Regions from separate parts of the Homo sapiens genome. Here region 1 is linked to region 2. A link means that fine-mapping ties the variant in region 2 to the expression of a gene that starts in the linked region. Tissue or cell type: whole blood. Region 2 holds a variant in brackets; the other region holds the start of a gene. All regions are shown on one strand. Distances are from middle to middle.

Region 1 (8,101 bases), 85 kb before region 2:
AAAGAATGGAAATCATAACAAACTGTCTCTCAGACCGCAGTACAATCAAATTAGAACTCAGGATTAAGAAACTCACTCAAAACCACAAAACTACATGGAAACTGAACAATCTGCCCTGAATGACTACTGGGTAAATAAAAAAATTAAGGCAGATATAAATAAGTTCTTTAAGGCCAATGAGAACAAAGACACAATGTACCAGAATCTCTGGGACACAGCCAAAGCAGTATGTAGTGGGAAACATAGCACTAAATGCTCACAAGGGAAAGCAAGAGAAATCTAAAATTCACATCTGACATCACACTTAAAAGAACTAGAGAAGCAAGAGCAAACAAATTCAAAAGCTAACAGAAGACAAGAAATAATTAAAATCAGAGCAGAACTGAAGGAGATAGAGACACTAAATACCCTTCAAAAATCAATGAATCCAAGAGCTGTTTTTTGCAAAGATCAACAAAATAGATAGCTAGTCAGACTAATGAAGAAAAGAGAAGAATCAAATAGACACAATAAAAAATGATAAAGGGGACATTGCCACTGATCCCACAGAAATACAATCTACCGTCAGAGAATACTACAAACACCTCTACACAAATACTAGAAAATCTAGAAGAAATGGATAAATTCCTGGACACATACACCCTCCCAAGATTAAACCAGAAGGAAATCAAATCCCTAAATAGACCAATAAAAAGTTCTGAATTTGAGGCAGTAATTAATAACCTACCAACCAAAAAAAGCCCAGGACTAGATGGATTCACAGCCGAATTCTACCAGAGATACAAAGAGGAGCTGGTGCCATTCCTTCTGAAACTATTCCAAACAATAAAAAAAGAGGGACTCCTCCCTAACTCATTTTATGAGGCCAGCATCATCCTGATACCAAAACCTGGCAGAGACACAACAAAAAAAGAAAATTTTAGGCCAATATCCCTGATGAACATTGATGTAAAAATCCTCAATAAAATACAGGCAAACTGAATCCAGCAGCATATCAAAAAGCTTATCCACCAGCCGGGCATGGTGGCTCGTGCCTGTAATCCCAGCACTTTGGGAGGCTGAGGTGGGTGGATCATGAGGTCAGGAGATCGAGACCATCCTGGCTAACACAGTGAAACTCTGTCTGTACTAAAAATACAGAAAAATTAGCTGGGCGTGGTAGTGGGCACCTGCAGTCCCAGCTACTCAGGAGGCTGAGGCAGGAGAATGGCATGAACCCAGGAGGCGGAACTTGCAGTGAGCCAAGATTGTTCCACTGCACTCTGGCCTGGGCGACAGAGCAAGACTCCACCTCAAAAAAAAAAAAAAAAAAAGCTTATCCACCACAATCAAGTTGGCTTCATCCCTGGTATGCAAGGTTGGTTCAACATATGCAAATCAATAAATGTAATTCATCACATAAACAGAACCAATGACAAAAACCACATGATTATCTCAATAGATGTAGAAAAGGCCTTTGATAAAATTCAACATCCCTTCATGTTAAAAACTCTTAATAAACTAGGTACTGATGGAACGTATCTCAAAATAATGAGAGCTATTTATGACAAACCCACAGCCATTATCATACTGAATGGGCAAAATCTGGAAGCATTCCCTTTGAAAACTAGCACAAGGATGCCCTCTCTCACCACTCCTATTCAACATAATATTGAAAGTTCTGACCAGGGCAATCAGGCAAGAGAAAGAAGTAAAGGGTATTCAGATAAGAAGAGAGGAAATCAAATAGTCTCTGTTTGCAGATGACATGATTGTATATTTAGAAAACTCCATTGTCTTAGCCCAAAATCTCCTTAAGCTGATAAGCAGCTTCAGCAGTCTCAGGATACAAAATCAATGTGCAAAAATCACAAGCATTCCTATACACCAAAAATAGACAAACAGAGAGCCAAGTCGTGAGTGAACTGCCATTCACAATTGCTACAAAGAGAATATAATACCTAGGAATACAACTTACAAGGGATGTGAAGGACCTCTTCAAGGAGAACTACAAACCACTGCTCAAGGAAATAAGAAAGTACACAAACAAATGGAAAACCATTCCATGCTCATAGATAGGAAGAATCAATATCATGAAAATGGCCATATTGCCCAAAGTAATTTATAGGTTCAATGCTATTTCCATCAAACTACTATTGACTTTCTTCACAGAATTAGAAAAAACTACTTTAAATTTCATACAGAACCAAAAACGAGCCCATATAGCCAAGACAATTGTAAGCCAAAAGAACAAAGCTGGAGGCAGCACGCTAACTGACTTCAAACTATACTACAAGGCTGCAGTAACCAAAACAGCATGGTACTGGTACCAAAACAGATATATAGACCAATGGAGCAGAACAGAGGCCTCAGAAATAACATCACACATCTACAACCATCTGATCTTTGACAAACCTAACAAAAACAAGCAATGGGGAAAGGATTCCCTATTTAATAAATGGTGTTGGGAAAACTGGCTAGCAATTATGCAGAAAACTGAAACTGGTTCCCTTCCTTATACCTTACACAAAAATTAACTCAAGATGGATTAAAGACTTAAATGTTAGACCTAAAACCACAAAAACCCCAGAAGAAAACCTAGGCAATACCATTCAGGACAAAGGCATGGGCAAAGACTTCAATACTAAAACATCAAAATCAATGGCAACAAAAGCCAAAATTGACAAATGGGACCTAATTAAACTAAAGAGCTTCTGCACAGCAAAAGAAACTATCATCAGAGTGAACAGGGAACCTACAGAATGGGAGAAAATTTTTGCAGTCTATCCATTTGACAAAAGGCTAATATCCAGAATCTACAAAGAACTCAAACAAATTTACAAGAAAAAAAAAAAAACCCCAACAAAAAGTGGGCAAAGGATATGAAGACACTTCTCAAAAGAAGACATTTATGCGGCCAAGAAACATATGAAAAAAGCTCATCATCACTGGTCATTAGAGAAATGCAAATCAAAACTACAATGAGATACCATCTCATGCCAGTTAGAATGGCAATCATTAAAAAATCAGGAAACAACAGATGCTGGAGAGGATGTAGAGAAATGGGAATGTTTTCACACTGTTGGTGGGAGTGTAAACTAGTTCAACCATTGTGGAATACAGTGTGGCGATTCCTCAAGGATCTAGAACTAGAAATACCATTTGACCCAGCAATCCCATTACTGGTTATATACCCAAAGGATTATAAATCATGCTGCTATAAAGACACATGCACACTTATGTTTATTGCAGCACTGTTCACAATAGCAAAGACTTGGAACCAACCCAAATGCCCATCAATGATACACTGGATAAAGAAAATGTGGCATATATATACCATGGAATACCATGCAGCCATAAAAAAGGATGAGTTCATGTCCTTTGCAGGGACATGGATGAAGCTGGAAACCATCATTCTCAGCAAACTAACACAAGAACAGAAAGCCAAACAACGCATGTTCTCACTCATAGGTGGGAACTGAACAATGAGAACACATGGACACAGGTAGGGGAACATCATACACTGGGGTATGTCACGGGGTGGGGGGCAAGGGGAGGGATAGCATTAGGAGAAATATCTAATGTAGATGACAAGTTAATAGGTGCAGCACACCAACATGGCATATGTATACATATGTAACAAACCTGCACATTGTGCACATGTACCCTAGAACTTAAAGTATAATTTTAAAAAATCAGTTTTCTTTTGGCTTTTTCTTAGCTTTATACTTAAATATTTTTTTCTAATGTAATTAGAGTGGAATTGTTTTTTGAATTTTATTTTTGGATTACTCATAGCTAGTATATACAATTGCAATTGAATTTTATATTTTGATTTTGTATCTTTTCACCTTGCTGAACTCATTTATTTGTTCTAGTAGATTTTAGGAAATTCCTTACAGACTTTTACATATAAGTTTATGAAAGATGCAATAAAGGACTTTATCTTCTTTTCCAAAAAAAAAAAAAATTTGTGCACTTAGCTCAGAAAAAAGTAAACAAAAAATTAACACAGTTACAAATTAGGATTTTTAGTGCAGGGGAAGAAGTTGTCACCACGCCTCTAAGAGGAAGGGGAAGTCTCAGAAGTATTTTCAGTTTATGACAGAAGGGCAAAAACATTGACTGCCTCAAGGTCTCAAGCACCAGTCTTCACCGCGGAAAGCATGTTGTGGCTGTTCCAATCGCTCCTGTTTGTCTTCTGCTTTGGCCCAGGTAAATGTCAATCCAGATCGGTGTAGTCACTGAGTGACTCCCTGGTTTTGTGCAGCTTGCTCAACCTAAATCGTCTGTATACAGTTGTCTGGCTCTCTGCCAAGGGATTGGGGCGGGAAAGGGGACGCTGGCAGTGTTACCTGATATACTACTACCTCCTCTCAACTTTGGATGCGATAAGCCTGAGATGGTTGTCGGTGAACAATTTCAATTGTGTCTGCATGTAAGAAAGTTATTTGCTGGGGCAGAGGAAATAAGCTTTTGAAGACAAGACTGTTTGTGGTTTATGACCAGCATCTTGTGTTATAAAGAGTACCAAGACCAAGAAAATGGGCCCTCATACCAATGTATCTACTATCGTACTGTGAACCTCAGGGAGGTTACTTATCCTTCCTGAACCTCACTATCCTCATCTAAATTATTAAAAACCTATTATTCAGTTGAGCCAAATTTTCTGGGCCCAACCAAACACACCAAAAATAACCCTCTCACCTTTTGCTCATTGCAAAAAAAAAGGTTTCCATCTCTCCCCTCCTTTAGTGCAAATTAGGGCTAGCTAGTCCAGCAATGCATTATATATGGCAGTGAGAAAAGAATGAACTGATCCAGCTGGCTTCTTGTTTCCTGCTGTCCATTATATGGAGAAGATGAAGATTCATATCACATTTGGGGAACTACAAGTGGTCCACGGGAGACAAAGTGTAGCATTCAGGCAGAGATAGTCCAGGAGACCAATGGAAATCTAGTCCAGAGCTAGCCCAGGGTAGCAGATAAAAGTAGGAAGCATTCACTGAGCACTTATTGTATTTCAAGTATTGTGCCAGGTGCTGTACACACGTTATGAGTCTCATGAGAATTCTATGAATTTATACTATTAATATCTCCATTTTAAAATGAAGAACTGAGGTGAACTTAATTTAAATAATTTGCCCAAATTTCATTAGCCAGCATGCGACAAGCTCTTGTAATAGTTATGAGAAAAAATAACAGTTCAACAAGTGTGGCAGCAGCATAAGAGAAAGAAGAGACTGAAGCAAGAGATCCCATCAATATGGAGTTAAGTAGAGTAATTGGTAATTGGAATGAGAAAGGAATAAATATTCATTGAGCACCTACTGAATGCTTGGCACTCTTCTAGTTTGCATGAATACATCATGAACAAAGCAAGCAAAAATTCCTGCCCTCATGGAGTTAACATTTTAGCAGGAGACAAACTGTAAAAAAAGATAAACAAGTAAAATAGTGTATTGGGTAGGAAGAAATAAATCAAGAAGGAAAGGGAGAGATGAAATATGGTAAAGACGGCAGTGAAATTTCAGACAGGATAGCCAAAGAAAGTGACAAAATTGGAAGGTGGAGAGCAGCCACAGGAGGAAGGTGAGTTCAATTTTGGACCTACTGATTTTAGGATGTCAGTGTGCTATACATGAGGAAGTTACGTGGAGGATCCTGGGAACTTAGGACTAGGGGTAGAGCTGAGGCTAGAGACTTAAAAATCAATGGCATAGAGATATGTTAAGCTGAGGAGAAAACTGGAATGAGAACAGAACTTTGGGAAATATATATAAAATGCAGAAAGAGAGAGAATTCTTTCCTTCATTCAAGAGCCACTTCCTGATCTAGGAGCAGAATCTTGAGTTTTTGCTTCATTTTTACCACCCTGCAAAATTATTTCCACCTCTAGAATAAAATATTCTGAATGTCCTTGTGTTAAAACTCCTCTTCTTCTCCCTATTTCCATGAATACTTCTTATAATGACCCTATGAAATATACAGTGCTCCAATCTCCACTTCACAGATGGGGAAAGAAGGCACAGAACACTAAAGTAACTTGCTCACTGCCCCACATTTATGGGGGAAATGGGTATAGAAAGAGAAACACATTTGAATGAGTTTACAGGAGGCAGATGCAGGTGTTCTGAGACCCAGGAGGAGAGAAGTGGCTGCTAGAATTGGAAATCAGGAAGCTTGGCTCCGGAGTCTGTGCTCATAGCCACTTCACTATGCTACTTAGCTTACACACAGTCATACATTCACACAAATGTGTACATAATTAGAAAATGTGAGGCCAGCAAAAAAAATAAGCAGGGCACCTTCATAGAGAAAAACACGGGGACCTGCTTTGGACGGAGTGATGAAGAAAGGACTTCCTGGAAAAGTAACATCTCATCTGATATTTAAAGGGTGTGAAAAGTTAAACAGGAAAAGTCAAATGAAGAAGATTTTAGGGCAGAGGGAATCATGTGTGAAAAGCCGTGATGCAGGAAAGAGCCTGGAGTGATTTAGGAAGGGAAAGAAGACCACTGTTGCAAAAATGTGGGGCAAATGAAATTAATCTTTGAAACAACCATGAAAAACAATGACTCATGCCAGCCTACATTCTTTGAAGTGGGTTGGGCACTATCCTGACTCCTTTTAGAAAATTTAGTGGAAAAGACAAACCATATTGAAAAATAATCCCATTTCCTTTAACTCAAGCCCTGGGTGGCAAAACTAACAGAACAAAACAATAATTGTAAATAAAATCAAGCATCATGACTTCCTAGAGAAAATAAATCTCGTTTGTTTCTTCATTTTGATTTTTATAGATGGAAAGTTGGAAATTTGTCAAACTTAAATGTGCATATAAATTACTTGGGGGAATCTTATTAAAATGCTGATTGGGGAATAGGGACTGAGATTCTGCATTTCTAAGAGGCTCCCAGGTGACACCAATGCTGCCTGTCCATGGACCACACTAAGCAGCAAGGTTCTAAATTCCAATGGACTTCAGTCATACTGGGATTGTAGGGAGGAAGAAATAGAAACTAACTTTGAGTGTGTTTGCAGGAAGCAGATATAGGTATTCTGAGGTCCAGGAGAGAGCAGTGGTTGGAAATGTAAGTAAAGCAAACACATGAGGGCTGATTCTGAGGTTGAGTCAAAATGTGCAATGCTCTTCTGTGAAGAGATTGTGACCTGATGGCCCCCGAGCAGTGTTATCTACTTTTTACCAACCGTCCACATCTTTCAAATGTTTATTGTGCTCAACAGGCAGAGAGCTGTTTTATATTTTTTCATTATCCTCAGACACGTGTTTTTCCACCTCTCAGAATCTGCAATCTCCAATGTGACCTCCAGGTGTTCATGCCTCTGTTTTTGGTCCCTTAACCCAGATTCAGCTTTGATTGTTTCTCTGTTCACACTCAGACATTTTTTATTAAGGTGAAATTCTTGTAACAGGATGTAATAATTTTAAAGTGACATTTTGTACATTTTGTGAAACCACCACTTCTATTATTCTAAAACATTTTCATCACCCCAAAAGGAAACCCTGTACCCACTAAGCAGTCATTTCCCATTCTCCCCTCCCCCCCAGCCCCTGGCAAATACCGATCTGCTTTCTGTCTCTGTGGGTTTACCTATTCTGGATAATTTCATATAAATGAAATCACACAATATATGACCTTTCGTGTCTGACTTCTTTCACTTAGCATCATGTTTTCCAGGTTCACCTATGCTGAACCATGTATCAGTACTTCATTCCTTTTTGGCTGAATAGTATTTTGTATTCTGTATATACTACATTTTATTTATCCATTTATCTATCAGTGGACACCTGGGTTGTTTTTGCCTTTTGGCTCTTGCGAATAGTGCTGCTATGTGTACAAGTATTTGACTACCTGTTTTTATCTGGGTATATACCTAGGAATGGATTTGTCAGATCATATAATTCTATGCTTAACTTTTTGGGAAATTGCCAAACTGTTTTCCACAATGGCTGTACCATTTTACATTTCCACTAGCTGTGTACAAGAGTTATAATTTCTCCACATCCTCATCAACACTTGTTTTTTTCCTTTTTAAAAAGATTATTATCACCATCCTAATAGGTGTGAAGTGGTATATTATTGTGGTTTTGATTTAC
Region 2 (8,109 bases):
AGTGTTTTATTGCCTTCATTTAATTTTGTAAGAAATTAAAGGCAGTGAAAACATTGATAAATCTTGAGGTTTTCAGATTTTATAATCTGTTCCATAAAATGTGTGCCCAGATTACTATTAATAGACAAGGATATTGCAAACTGAGAAATAGTGTCTTTTAGAGATCGCTTGCAGAGCATCAAATAAGCCCTTACTTATGAACATACTAGATGAACATCCTATAAAGATACACATAGTCACTAAAGCATATGTAGGTGAACAACACTTTGCTTATATAAATCAATCCAACTATTTACTAATGCCCCCCACAAGGGGAGCTGAGCTGCCCCCTTTCCCCTAAGGCCTGATAGAGGATAACCTGTACAATACCATTGAATAACTCTGGGCTCATGAAGCAAACCAGCCATGCCTAATAATTCCTTTTGCCCTTTCTTTGTTCACAATTGCCATATGATAGACCACACAAGCTTGGTGCTACCAAGCATCTACCTAAGGAGCCCCAAAGACTATGGGTGAAAAAAAAAAGCAAAAACAAAGTCATTCTAATGGTCTCCAAAAATTCTGAATATGAGATCTGATTTTGGAGAAGAGAAACATTTGATAGAATTACCAGGGGAATATAGTCAATTGATAATGGTCATAACAAAGATACTGGTGAGTAAAAAAGTCCAGAGTTATTAACCAAAACAACGATTTTATTACAACCACAACAAGAGGGTAAGAAAAGAACCTTGAGAAATGCTTGTTCTTCCAGGAGTAAGAAACCCTTGTTTTCACAATCAATGAAATATCCGAAAGCATAAAACCAGAGTCAACTTAAATGTTAATTTTTTTTTTTTTTGAGACAGGGTCTCCCTCTGTCACCCAGGCTGGAGTGCAGTATGTGATCTCAGCTCACTGCAGCCTCGACACCCCAGGCTCAGGTGATCCTCCCAACTCAGCCTCCCAAGTAGCTGGGGCTACAGGCATGGCTAATTTTTGTATTTTTTGTAGAGACGGGGTTTTGCCATGTTGCCCAGGATGGTCTCAAACTTCTGGGCTCAAGCAATCCACCTGCCTCAGCCTCCCAAATTGGTGGGATTACAGGCATAAGCCACCATGCCCGGCCTTAAATGTTAATTTTGAGAAGAGGGCCCACTCTGGCAGAGCAATGTTCTGCTAACTGAACAAAATACATGGAAACAAACAAAAAACAGACTCTTTAGCACCTCACAAGAGGCACAGACTCATAATCAAAGGCAAATCTTCACTTCTTTTCAGCTACTAGTCCTAGTATGACATTCACATTGTTTGATAGCCAAAACAATATTTTAAATGATGGTATTTATCTAAATCTTTAAAATTCTCATTTATAAAGCATATTATCAAGTATTTTATTTTAAATGTTTATAATGTATTGATTTTATTATCTTAATGTGATTGATTACAGAAGAAATATTAAAAAATAGAGATTAAAAACACATGAGCACTATACAGTGGCTATGTACTATATGTCTTATGTCTTGATTTTAAAGTTTTTAAAAATTGCCAGATTTATTAATTCAATATTATACTATACATTTATTGAGTATTAATTTAATATTCTATTGCATTCAAAGTCCATTAAGAAACTTCAAAAGTATATTTAAATCAATATTCAGGTGCAATACACTATTAAGAAATGGGGTTGGGCACAGTGGCTCAGGCCTGTAATCCCAGTACTTTGGGAAGCTGAGACAGGAGGATCGCTTGAGACTGGGTCTTCAAGACCAGCCTGGGCAATATAGCAAGACCTTGTCTCTGCAAGAAAAGAAAAATAGAAAATTAGCTGGACTCCTGCTTGAGCCCAGGAGTTGAGGCTGCAGCGAATCATGATCCTGCCACTGCACTCCAGTCTGGGCAACACAGTGAGAGCTTGTCAAAAAAAAAAAAAAAAAAAAAAAAGAAAAAGAAAAAGCAAGAGAAGGAAGGAAGGAACAAAGGAAGGAAAGAAAAGGTCAGAAAACCAATAACACCTTAAAACTGTACACGTACAGTATAAATGGATTAGCTCTGTAGGTCTATATAATCTGCAATATTGCCTAAGATTTCTATAAAAGAACCGGTTATACAGATATACCACTTATTTAAATTATAACTCAATGTAGTTGCATATATCTATGTTTAGATTTACATATTTTTAAATAATGGATAGGCGATAATTACTTATTTCACTTATAGGACAATTGTTAATTAGTTCTAATTAACTATCTTAGAACTATCTTAATTAACTATCTTAATTCAACTGAAATTTAGATAGTTCCATTTAATTTAGTTTTTTGTTAAAACAGAAATACAAATTATTGAATTAATTAATATGCCATGCTTGCATTTTTATTTCATGCTGTGGAAAAAACAGCAAAAAAAGGTAGACATAATTTAACCCCAAATTCACAAAATAATTTAATTTATTACATGGTTTCTTTTTATTAGGAGTGTAAGTAAAACTTAATTAAAATTAAGTTCTCTTATCGTTTTACCAAATTATACTAAAACTTTCTACAGCTTGGTACAAAAAAGCTTCTTTTAGCCTTTTAAAATTGTAACTAAATTGTAAATTTAAATTTATAACTCAAATTGTAATAAATCTATCATTTTTACCTTTATACAAAGCAAAGAAATTGAGGCCTGGAGTCTCTTGCATTTCTTTGTAATCGAATTTAGATTGATTTTTTTCCTCCTTGGAAGTCTTTGATATCCCCCCAGGAGATTTGCAGTAAGCTGATGTCCACTTGTGCTGACAACCTTTCGCCATTTGAAAAGCAATTCCTAGCTTGCTTCTGAGAGCTGGTAGAAATTGAATGTCTGCCTCGGGACACCAAATTATCATGCAACGCAAACTGTCCATCATGAACTGGGTGTTTTCTGAACCACCAAATATAAAACTGAATTACCTAACAGGAATTCATTATAAAACAGAAGTGGAATATACAAAAATGGGTCTGAACAGGTCCAGAATACACAAGTATGCTGCATAAGCAGGGGACTTTGTAATTCCAGCTACTCTTCCACCTCTCCCTTGCTCTACACCGACGGCCTCATGAGGAATTCCCTATGAACAGTTAATGGAGGAAGAAAGAGCATGGGCCTGGATTTGCATGCTATGTCAGCCCCAGATGAATGAGAATGGCCTCTCCACTACAGTGAACCTCACTCAGTAGAGGCTTCAAAGTCAGTAATGAAAGAAAATCTCTCCAGCAGGCAGAACTTGAAGCAGCATATCTAGTTGTACACTTTGTTTGGAAGGAGAGATTGCCTGAGGTACATATCTACATTGAATCATGGGCAGCATGTTAACAGGTTGACCACCTTGTCAGTCACTTAAATGAAAAACAATATTGGAAAAGCAGTAAAAAGGAAGTCTGGGAAAGAACTACATAAAGTGGTCACAGTATTAAGATATTTGTGTCTCAAGTAAACGCTCTTTAAAATACTAGGGTTTCCTAATCCCAGGGTTCCTCAACCATGACATAAACTTACTGTATGCAGAGCATCCAGATTGGCTGCTCCGTATCACCCAGTGGAACTTAGAGGCAAGGAGAACTAATGCAAATATGAAGTTCATGCTACCTGCTGGGCCAAGTGTAATAAAGTCCTTTGTCTCTGACCCAGGAGTCTCATGTTTTTTGTCAGTACCCATGAAACTAACAGACAAACTTATTAGTTTAGAAGTGGCATAAAATCTCAGGCTTTTCATAGTTGTTGGAAGTTCTGGCAATGAGGACGAGATGCTGACAGAGATAGGGCTTTCGGGAAGAGGAAAGTACAATGGCCCTTTTGCAGGCCTGTTTGGAAGATCTGAGAGACTCCTGGGGATCCAGTAGTGACTGTTCTCATCCAAGTAGTGAGTGAGAGGTGGAGAATGAGGATACCCACTGTTCTACCTGTTAATGGGGCTGAGGGGTATTAGTTTGGATTGAAGCAAGCTGTCCAAATGGTATTTGTTCTTTCTCCTCTGGGCAGAAGGAGGGAGGGCTATTATTATGATGAAACAGTAAGCCCCATGGCACAAGCCAACAAGCAATAAGGCAGTGGCCACTAGTTAAGGGGTCCCCACAGCTAAAATAAATGGTGTTGGTAGTGAGGATATAGATGTTTGGGTAGACCACAAACAGAATTTGTTTACGTGAACCTGGATCACCACCAGTCACTTGAAACTGAAAGTAAGCGCAGATTGCTTACTGACACAGATCC[G/A]TACTCAAGAGCCTGGTAAAATCATTGCTCTCTGCCCCACAGACAAACATTATCTTTATCTCCCTAGGCTACTAATTTCTATAGTAAGTGTGAAATATCTCTTAGATGTCTTTGTGAAGATGTCAAATAAGCACTTAGATTTATAAGTCTAGAATTCTGGGGAGAAGTCAGGGCAAGAAATAGAGATTTGGGAGTACTTGGTATATAACTAACATTTATTGGGTACTTACTACATGCCAGGCATATCTAAGTAGTTTATGAATATTTTCTGAGTTACACTCCCAACATCCCTGTGAGGTTGGCACTGTGTTATTGTCTTCATTTTAAAGATAAAGAAACAGAAAATTTCCTCAAGGCCACATAGCTACTGGGAGCAAAACCAGAAGAAAAACCCAGGCAGGTTGACCCCAGAGCCCATGTTCATTACTACTATGCTGTGCTATCTGGTACACAGACGGTATTTAAAGCCTTGGGATGAGATGAGGATACCCATGGGTAGTATGTAGAAAAGAGAAAAGGGGACTGAAGTACTGCAACATTTAATGATGTCCTTCAGAATTTCCAATTCCTCCTGTCTGGTTCTGTATTTAATAGACAAATGCTAATTTATCAATTTGAACTGTCCCATCAGGAATATACCTGTACAAATGACCAACTCCAGTTCCCAAACTAGATCTATCAGTTGTTATAAATTGATAAATTAACATTCTTATTTATAATTGCTCTTTTATATGTATGGCTGGTTTTATTCCATTTCCAGAATGTTATTTCCCTTTGATTACTTAATGAAGACAGAATGTCTGGACCAGTAATGACCTCCTAAGATACTGACACTCTGTGAGGTACTATCTGAGGCAAACAGGACTTCTTGGACATCTCTTTGACCACAATATGGCACCATACCAGGAATCTGAGGAAGCAGAGGTTCCACATGGTTTGCTGAAAATTCAAGGGGAAAACAACATCTGAACTGAAAATGCTTAACTCAGAGCTCTCCTCAAATAGTAAATACTATTTCAGAAACGGTTGGTAAGCTTTGGCAAGACGCTGCCCTCAGAAAGAACCATGGCAGCTGAGAAATAGCAAGTACCAGGTATGGGTTCTGTGGTATAAACATGAGGGGCTCCACAAAGGTCCTCTTCTCTTTAGTGTCGAGCAATTATGTGTACATATACACAGCGTACATTAGATGTTCCAATTCTTCTCCCTGTCTTTGATTTTATTCTTAAAACAAAAGATTCATTTGTAACTTTTATTTCAGTTGCCATCAGAGTCTTAGTAAAATAGCAGTCCCTTAGTTGTTCAGAAATTCATTTTTATTTTTAATTATATGGCTACGTAATAGTTGTATATATTTACAGAGCACATATGATGTTTTGATACAGACATATAGTATGTAATGATCAAATCAGGGTAATTGGGGTATCCATCATCTCAAGCATTTATTTATCATTTATTTGTGTTAAGAACATTCCAATTCCCCTATTTTAGTTATTTTTAAATATACAATAAATTGTTGTTAACTACAGTCACCTTATTGTGCTACCAAATACTACAACTTATTCATTCTATTTAACTGTACTGTTATATCCATTAACCACTCCCTGTTTATCCCCCTGTACCTACTATTCTCCCCAGCTTCTGGTAAACATCATTCTAGTCTCTCTCTCCATAACTTCAATTTTTTTTAGCTCCCATATGTGAATGAGTACATGTGATGTTTGTCTTTTTGTGCCTGGCTTATTTTACTTAATATAATGTCCTCCAGTTCCATCCATATCGTTGCAAATAACAGAATTCCATTGTATATATGTACCACATTTCCTTTATGCATTCCTCCATTGATGGACATTTAGGTTGCTTCCATATCTTGGTTATGGTAAATAGTACTGCCATAAACATGGGAGTGCAGACATCTCTTCGAAATACTGATTTCCTTTCTTTGGGCGTACACCCAGCAGTGGGATTGTTGGATCATATAGTAGTTCTGTTTTTAGTTATTTGAGGAACCTCCATACTGTTCTCCATAGTGGCTGTACTAATTGACATTCCCACCAACAGTGTACAAGCATTCCCCTTGCTATACATCCTTGCTAGCCTTCTCAAGAAATCTTTTGACAACTTCCAAGGTCCAATTACTTTGACACTCAATTTTTAGACAGCAATTTCTTGGATAGAGTTTGGTTATTGAAGAGAATGAGGAAGCTCTTCCCAGTCAAAAAGATGTTGTGCCCCATCCTTTATTTCAAGGAAACCTTTCCTGACAACCTTGGTCAGTTTCCTACTGTAAGATCCCATAGTCCCCTATACTTCATCACTACATTCATCACCTTTGAAATTAAGTGATTACTATCTGAGAACAAAGACTATGTCCATGTTATTCAGTGCCATGCCACCAATACCTAGCATAGCTCCTGGCACATAGAAGGTGCTCAACAAATATTGGTTAAATGACAGAATGAGTGAAAAACAGTAAACACAGATAAGACAGTTTCCAGCAACATTTAACTACAAGGTCGTTAAGATCTTGAAGTTTGTACAGTGACCACCACTTGGGCAAAGAAACTTGAGAACATATTTCTAAATTATTGATATATGATGCTACCTACAATTATTGAAATATGGTGTTACTTTTGTGAAAGGAAAATAAATCTTGGGGCCCCAAAATCACTAACCTAAATGGAAAAGTCAAGCGAGGAACTGCTTAAGGCAAACCTGCCTCCCATTCTATTCAAAGTCACCCCTCTTCTCACTGAGATAAATGCATATCTGAGTGCCTCCTTCGGAGAGGCTAATCAAAAATTCAACAGAATGCAACCATTTGTCTCTTATCTACCTATGACCTGGAAGCCCCCCTCCTCACTTCGAGTTGCCCCACCGTTGCTTCAAGTTGTCCTGCCTTTTCCAGACCAAACCAATGTTCATCTTACATACATTGACTAATGTCTCATCTCTCCCTAAAATGTATAAAATCAAACTGTATTCTGACCACCTTGGGCACAGGTCATCATGACCTGAGGCTGTGTCATGGGCATGTGTCCTCAACCTTGGAAAAATAAAGTTTCTAAATTAACTGAGACATGTCTCAGATATTCAAGGATCACACTTTCATTCTATACCCATAGCAATTAATGCAAATATTGAAGTACATTAAGTCACCTTATCTGAAACTATCTAAATATGGTAAAACTCATGAATTTCCTCTGTTCTATTGGTCATTGATATGGTTTGGCTGAGTCCCCACCCAAATCTCATCTTAAATTTTTGTTCCCGTAATCCTCATGTGTCATGGGAGAGACCAGACGGAGATAATTGAATCGTGGGGGTGGTTACCCTCATGCTGTTCTCATGATAGTGAGTTCTCACAAGATCTGATGGTTTGATAAGGGGCTGCCCCCTTCAGTTGGCACTCACTTCTCTCACCTGCCGCCATGTAAGACATGCCTGTTTTGCCTTCTGTCATGATTGTAAGTTTCCTGAGGTTTCCCTAGTCATGAGGAACTGTGAGTCAATTAAACCTCTTTTCTTTATAAATTATCCAGTCTTGAGTATATCTTCATAGCAGCATGAAAACAGACTAATACAGTAAATTGGTACAACAGAGAGTGGGGTACTGCTATAAGGATATCCAATTATGTGGAAGTGACTTTGGAACTGGGTAACAGGCACACGTTAAAACAGTTTGGAGGGCTCAGAAGAAGACAGGAAACTTTGGAACTTCCTAGAGACTTGGAGGGCTCAGAAGACAGGAAAATGTGGGAAAGGTTGGAAGTTCCTAGAGACTTTTTGAATGGCTTTGACCAAAATGCTGATAGTGATATGGACAATGAAGTCCAGGCTGAGGTGGTCTCAAATGGAGATGAGGAACTTGTTAAGAACTGAAGTAAATGTCACTCT

What was found. PIP is the estimated chance that this variant, and not a neighbour inherited with it, causes the effect.
Region 1: SLAMF6 starts here. The variant in region 2 is fine-mapped to the expression of SLAMF6 in whole blood (TOPMed, PIP 0.94).

Annotation. Positions count from the first base shown.
Region 1 is chr1:160,519,237-160,527,337 of GRCh38, reverse strand. SLAMF6 (SLAM family member 6) reads left to right here and starts at 4,083. Exons shown (of 8, transcript NM_001184714.2): 1 at 4,083-4,194. The coding sequence starts at 4,146. RefSeq lists an enhancer at 4,249-4,298.
Region 2 is chr1:160,434,154-160,442,262 of GRCh38, reverse strand. It overlaps LOC105371467 (a long non-coding RNA gene), which reads left to right and starts at 4,086. Exons shown (of 3, transcript XR_922202.3): 1 at 4,086-4,181; 2 at 4,973-5,305. The variant G/A (reference allele first, on the strand shown) is at 4,213.